Linked DNA regions of Homo sapiens. The gene in region 1 interacts genetically with each later gene. Each region holds a gene or a part of one and is shown on either strand. Other genes may lie near its edges.

Region 1 (3,749 bases):
AGGGCCCTGCAGTTGATTTGAGGGGTTCCAAAAAGCCCCTTACCAAAAAAATCCTTGTCCTCCCTGTGAAGCCCACATTGGCCATTCTGTATTACTTATTTATTTTATTTTTTTAATTTTATTTATTTATTTTTTGAGACGGAGTTTCGCTCTTGTTGCCCAGGCTGGAGTGCAATGGCGTGATCTTGGCTCACCACAACCTTTGCCTCCCAGGTTCAAGAGATTCTCCTGCCTCAGCCTCCAGAGTAGCTGGTATTTTAGGTGCCTGCCACCACACCCAGTTAATTTTTTGTATTTTTAGTAGAGATGGGGTTTCACCATGTTGGCCAGGCTGGTCTCAAACTCCTGACCTCAAGTGATCTGTCCACCTTGGCCTCCCGAAATGCTGGGATTACAGGCGTGAGCCACTTCACCCGGCCCTATACTGGCCATTTTTTAACTTTAAGAAGCCAAAGTTTCCTGTTTAAATGAGCATAAATTAAATTTTACATACAGCTTGATGTCAACTACATTAGAAAAAGGCCAAAAGGAAATTATGAGAATAGCAGCTACCATGGATGTGTCATACCTTTCCCCCTGTGAATCGCAAAGCACCCATTCCACGATCGGCTCTGGAACGCTCTCAGATATGCAGACCAGGGCGTCCTGGTTTTCCATTTTTCTAAAGTAAGGTCTTCTTAATGTGTAAAGCAGGGTATCTAAAGCATCATAAGTTATTAACATTTTACTATTTTAAAAATAATTCTCTTAGCAGCCCCTCAGAAAAGGATTCTATGTCATTATGAAAAGTTCTCAACCATTACGTATACATATTTTTTTCTTTTTTCATAATAAAGGCATCAAAAGCAAACCAACCATTATATTAAATTTAGCTGTGGCTGCAGTGTCAACTTGAACATTTCTCCTCTTGGCCAATTTCTTTGGGTATTTCACAAATCCACAGCTAACTAAAGTAGTCGAGTGAAGCCATGTGAAAATACAAATATTGATAGGCACAGGAAAAAGGAAATTAGCAATAACATATGGCTTAAACCCTTGTTTAACACATAGTTTAGACCTCAACTTTCTTCCTATAATTTGATCTGCAACTAGGCAGAAATATACTAAGATTTAGAAAGACAGAAGAAACATGGTAGGGTGGAGTTGGAATTGCAACAGAACTTAAGAGGTTTAGTTGAGCCTCCCACTCACCCTGGATCACACACACACACACACACACACCATCCTTCACTCCCAGCTATTTCTAACATAAACTTTCTACTTCTACTTTGACTCTTCTAGAGACTGGAGTTCATGACCTCCCAGGGCAGGTCATTCTAATTTCTGACAAACTTTTTTTTTTTTAAAGAAAGTTTCCCTATACTGAATTCCAGCCTCTCTCCTTACAATAAATTTTGTTTGAAAATACTATGTACTGTTTGATATATATATATATATATGAAAGAATATATGGAGTGTAAATTTCAAAGCATAACAACAACAAATACCCACGGAGCCACTATCCACCTAATAACTAGAATATTAATAAATACCTTTTGATCTACTTTTATGCTTCTCCCCACCTCTCAACTGCACGTATCCTTTATCCTGAATTTTGTTGATTATTCGAGGACTCTTCAAAGTAGTTATACCAAATAAATATGTGGCACTAAACAATATATTGATTTTTTCATTCTTGAGCTTCAAAATAGTGTTATCAATCAATATGTAACTTCTACAACTTCATTTTTTCATCCAACCTTATGTTTTTAAAATTCATCCATGGTTTTACATGTAGCTATACTTTATTCATTTTTTTTTTTACTGCTACATAATATTCTATTGGTAAATATATCATTATTTTTTCATTTTCTTGCAGTAGACATTTGGGTTGTTTCCTTCCGTGTGTGTGTGTGAGACAGGGTCTCTGTCACCCAGGCTGGAGTGCAGTGGTGCAATCTCAGCTCACTACAGCCTCAACCTCCCAGGCTCAAGTGATCTTCCTGCCTTGGCCTCCCAAAGTGCTTGGATTACAGGTATGAGCCACCACACCCGGCCACAGTTTTTTGTATGATCAACCATGTGCTCTGAACATTCTACACATTTGTACTGAGGCATGTGTATAACAGTTTCCTTAATAACATTCTTAAGAGTGGAACTGCTGGTCTACATGGTATGAGCACATTCAGCCTTACACATAATGATCATTTGTTTTCCAAAGTGGTTATACTAATTTATGTTACACAGCAGGATATGAGAGCACCTATTGCTTTATAGACTTACCAAGACTTCTTAATTTTCAGCAATCCAGCAAGTATAAAATGGTATTTCATTGTGGTCTTAATTTAATTTCTCCATTATTAATTTAACATGTGTTAAAATAATTAATTGGGAGTCCATTAGGCTGAGACAACTCTAACAGCTTGAGTTCCTAGGTAAACAAATCACAACACAACTCAAAAAAAAAAAAAGGAAAAGAATAAAGGCCGGGCAAGGTGGCTCACGCCTGTAATCCCAGCACTTAGGGAGGGTGAGGCGGGAGGATCGCTTGAGCCCAGGAGTTCGAGACCAGCCTAGGTAACATGCCAAAACCCCGTCTCTACAAAAACAACAACAACAAAAAGCAAAAAACAAACCCAATTCAATATGAGCAGCAAAATGCAACTTAGCTTAATCAATGAGGAACTGCAAACTGACCAATCCAGGGACTGTCCTTCTTTAAACAATCAAATTTTTTCTTTGTCTTGCTTCCGGGAACACATTATAGAAAGAAGTCTTACCCTTGAATCTCCTCACTGGAGCCCACCTGCTTGCCATCTGGTACTGCCTGATTCATGAATTGCTTTCTGCTCAAATATACTCTTTACAACTTTAAAGTGCCTAAGTTTATCTTTTAACATGTTTCTTGACCATTTAGGTTTCATGTTCCAAAAATGAAATGCCTACTCATGTCCTTTGTTCATTGCTCTACTAGGTTTTCATTTTGTTCGTTTTTCTTATTGACTTATTGACTTATATAGATTGTTTATCTTATTGACTTTACATATTATGACTATTAATCCTTTGTTGATTGTGAACTGCAAGTATTTTTTCCCATCTTGAGGTGATTTTTACTTTTTCTCCCTGTAATTTCTAACAATTGGTTCTTATCATATCCTCTAGAGCAACTTTTTTAAAGTCTAGCTTTGATTCCATATGAAAATCTTTCAAATATTTAAAATCAGAAACCGAGATCAAGGGAGATAATTACCATACAAGGTACTTTAACTAGTTAGCTCAGGTTTCCTGACTCAAATCCCAAAAGAATTTCCTCTGCATTACACTGCAATCAATCTTATCGTCTCCTCAAAACATTTCCTTCTATATACTACACATTCCCAATTCCTTCAACTGCTCCTAATTTAAAGAATTCCAAGTTTTCCACTATCCTGGTTGCTCATTTTGTCAGTATTCATCTTTAAAAAAGTAGAACTGAAATGAATAAGCTTCTATTAATTTCCTTAATTTAGACGTTATATTTTCATGAACACTGCCAAGGTTCAAATTTACTTTTTTGGCAACCATGCCACGCTGGTGGTTAATACTGAGCTTGTGGTTGACTAAACCCTTTCCTCTTTTTCACACTGACTGTTGCCACATCTCTCCCACCTATTTTTTGGATCCCACCACCTTGCAGAATGCTAAAAATAAGTTATAATTTACCTGAATAACTGTTGTTACATTTTTACATTGTAAATCTTAAGTGAAAGGAATATACCCTAAGTATAACA
Region 2 (3,749 bases), on another chromosome or scaffold:
GCTGGTATGTAGAGACATCGTTCTTTTTTTTTCTTTTTTTCTTTGTCCTCTTTTGAGACGGAGTCTTGCTCTGTCGCCCAGGCTGGAGTGCAGTGGCGCGATCTCTGCTCACTGCAACCCCGCCTCCCGGATTCAAGCAATTGTCTGCCTCAGCCTCCCGAGTAGCTGGGATTATAGGCACCCACCAGCACGCCTGGCTAAGTTTTGTGTTTTTACTAGAGATGGGCTTTCGCCATCTTGGCCGGGGTGCTCTTGAACTCCTGACCTCGTGATTCACCTGCCTTGGCCTCCCAAAGTGCTGGGATTACAGGCATGAGCCTCCGTGCCCGGTGGAGACATAATTCTTACATATTGGTTTTCTATCCAGCGGCCTTGTGAAATATGCTTGTGAATTCTAAAGTTTACTTCTAGGTCGTTTTCAGTCTTCAATATACAGAAACATATCATCCTGGAATAAGAGCAGTTTTGTTTCCGCCATATTTTTTTCTTTTCCCTTTTGTATTTTTTTGTAGAGACGGGGTTTTGCCATGTTTCCCGGGCTGTTGTTGAACTTTTGAGTGCAAGTGATGCACCCACCTCACCTCCCACAGTGCTGGGATTACTGGCGTGGGCCACCGTGGCGGGCCCGTCGTTGGCATTGTAAAGAGTTTTATTTCCTTTTCTGATTTTATGGCATTGCGCAGACCCACCCGTTACAATGGTGACAGTGGACATCCTTGTCTTCTCCCTGATGAGAAACCGAAAAATTTCAACATTTCGCCATCCTATTCACTCTCCTTTTTTTGTAGACGGACTTTATCAGAGTGAGTCATTGCATTCTGTTCCAAATTTGCTGAGAGTATTCATTTGAATATATGTTGATTTTCATCAAACAGTGCATCTATTTCGATTACCACAGCGTTTTTTCCCATTCATGTGTTAATATAGTGAATTCGATTGATAAATTTGTACGTTTTTAGGTTCGATTATTAAAACTTGAGACAGCGTCTCACTCTGTCACCGAGGCTGGAGTGCGGTGGTGTTATCAGAGCTCGCTGCAGCCTTGACCTCCTGGGCTCAAGTGCGCCTCCCACCTCAGCCTCCTGAGGAGCTGTGAGTATAGGTACATGCCACCATGCCCAGCTAATTTTTCGATGGTTTTTTGTTTGTTTTTTGTAGTGATGAGATTTTCTGATGTTGCTTAGGCTGGTCTCGAAGTCCTGAGCTCAGGTGATCTGGCCAGCTCAGCCTCCCAAAATACTAGGATTACAGGCGTGAGCCTTGGCCTGGTCTGGTTTTTCTTATATAGGGGTCTTATCTATATAAAGACTAAAGTTAATCTGTGCCTTTGTGCGGGTGGGCTAAGAGCATGATGACTTTTATCATTCTATTGATTTAAAGAAAACTGTCCTTGACTTACCAGTGTGTAAGTCCATGAAAGCATAATTCTGTTGAAAGCATATATTGTTAATGGGTGTTGGGAACCGTGCACTTTCCGCTGCTGTGGGAGCATGTCCTTGGAGGTACCTTTCATCTGTTTTCTCAACTCCAAACATCTTAGGACCATGGGTTGTGACTGGTAGGACTATGTATCTTGCTGCTTTCAAGACGGAGTATATTTTCACGTGGTGTCACTCTGGCTGTCCTGTTTCCCTAATACTGTCACTTCACCCTCTGCGATTCTGATGCTACAAATGATAGATATCGTTTTAGCATTTTCTTACGGGTCCTAGCGATTCTATTCATTTTTCTTTCAGTCTCTTTCTCTGACTTGTTCACATTGAACAATTTCCTTTTGGGATAGGTTGCTATTTCTGTTTTCGCAGGTGGTTTACCTGTCTTCCCAGCCAGTCACAGTGGTCCTTGTCCCCATGGTGGGTCCGGGGCAAGAGAGGGCCCTGGGTTGGGGGTGGGGTTCAGTTGAAGATGGGGTGAGTTTTGAGGGGAGCACTACTTGAGTCCCAGAGGCATAGGAAACAGCAGAGGGAGGTGGGATTCCCTTATCCTCAATGAGGATGGGCATGGAGGGTTTGGGGCGTGGCGCTGGGAACGGCAGCCCTCCCCAGCCCACAGCCGCGCATGCTCCCTGGGCTCCCGCCTCAGTGCGCATGTTCACTGGGCGTCTTCTGCCCGGCCCCTTCGCCCACGTGAAGAACGCCAGGGAGCTGTGAGGCAGTGCTGTGTGGTTCCTGCCGTCCGGACTCTTTTTCCTCTACTGAGATTCATCTGGTAGGTGTGCAGGCCAGTCATCCCGGGGGCTGAAGTGTGAGTGAGGGTGGAGAGGGCCTCGGGTGGGTCAAGCGGGTCCCGCTTCCTGGTCTGTGGCCTCCGAGGGAGAAGGGCCACGAGGTCGTCCTCCTTCCCTTCACAGGCTGCGAGGCCACCGGCGGCTTCGTGGTCGTGAAGGGGCCTGGACGGGGAGGAAGGTGGGCCGTGGAGGGGAGGCGGTCAGGGGCTCAGGTGAAGACGGGGTGAGTGCTGTTGGGGGGATGGAAGTCCCGAGGTGCCGGGATCCCCGACGACACAGGGCAGATTCCCTGAATGGGGCCCCCGGCGGGGGCGAGGCGGGCGGTGAAGAAGGGGCCTGGCACCTGGGAAGGCTGCGGCCTGGCGAGCGCCCCCTCAGCGGTGTGGAGTGCGGAGCGCCCGAGTGAGAAGCACTGCAAGGTCTCACCTCCGCCATGGAAGGTCCGAAAACAGTGGGAAGGAGTGGGCGAGGCAGTGCGGTCCAACCAAACTTGTTGTGAGGGGGGGTGAATGGCTCTAGGAAGTGGGAGTGTGCCCAAAGCAGCAATCACGAGAATTGTGATTCACTAGGGTTTTCGTGGGGAGTGCACTTGTGAAACTAAACCTCATCAGAAATGACCTCTGTCTGCGGGGCGCAGTGGCGCTCGCCTACGTATTCCCAGTTACTGGGGACACTGAGGTGGGAGGATCCCTTGAGCGGGAGGTCGAGGCTGCAGTGAGCTGTGATCACGCCGCTGCACTCCAGCCTGAGCAACACAGCGAGACCGCGTGTCCAAAAGAAATTTAGAAAAAAATGTCCTCTGCCTTTTGCCACACGCCTTAAGATGATTGCTCTGCCAGCCTGGCCAGCAGAAGTGGCTTTGTAGGCACTCAGACAGCGTACACACGTATGCTTAACTCTGGGACTTATTTTGAGAGTATTTTCAAAAGTAAAACGGCAAGTTAACATTTATCCATGGAAGTGATCGAATATAGCAGCCCTCTGGAGCGCACGTTCCCAATCACGGTTGTCTGTTTTCAGTGTGAAATATGAGTTGGCGAGGAAGATCGACCTATTATTGGCCTAGACCAAGGCGCTATGTACAGCCTCCTGAAATGATTGGGCCTATGCGGGTGAGTGCTTAAACGTTAATTCGATGTTTTCTATTAGTAGAAATTAATTTTTGTGATAGCGTCGTTGCATTAGTGTGGAAATGCTGATAAAGGTCTTTCCTGCTCATAAAAAATGAGGATGGCATCTCATGAAGGAAACATTGATTCTGGAGGATTTTTTTTTTCCTCTCGTGTTCTTCAGCTTTTGCCCATGACTTCTTTCTCCGGCTTTGTTTGTTAATGACAGATTGTACACATGTATTCCAACACAGAGTATAATAGCCCCCAAAGTCCTCGTGCGTCACTTTTCTCACAGTAACCTCCCTGTGGGTGGAGTAACCTTATTGGGCATAGAGCATAGAGTTGGAGAAATGTCTTTAGGCTTAGTTAGGACCAGAAATAGCTATGTATTCTGTGTATATATGTAAAAT

What was found.
Region 2: changes in FLT3 (region 1) and GAGE12E together harm fitness less than expected from each alone (positive genetic interaction), as found in Homo sapiens cells (one study listed by BioGRID).

What each region holds. Positions count from the first base shown.
Region 1 is NC_000013.11:28,051,977-28,055,725, forward strand, and holds part of FLT3 (receptor-type tyrosine-protein kinase FLT3 precursor), read right to left. Parts: intron 948-3,749; exon of another isoform or gene 856-947; intron 699-855; coding exon 569-698; intron 1-568. UniProt on the Homo sapiens protein: Tyrosine-protein kinase that acts as a cell-surface receptor for the cytokine FLT3LG and regulates differentiation, proliferation and survival of hematopoietic progenitor cells and of dendritic cells.
Region 2 is NC_000023.11:49,549,189-49,552,937, forward strand, and holds the start of GAGE12E (G antigen 12B/C/D/E), read left to right. Parts: upstream 1-2,100; 5' UTR 2,101-2,208; intron 2,209-3,247; 5' UTR 3,248-3,255; coding exon 3,256-3,339; intron 3,340-3,749.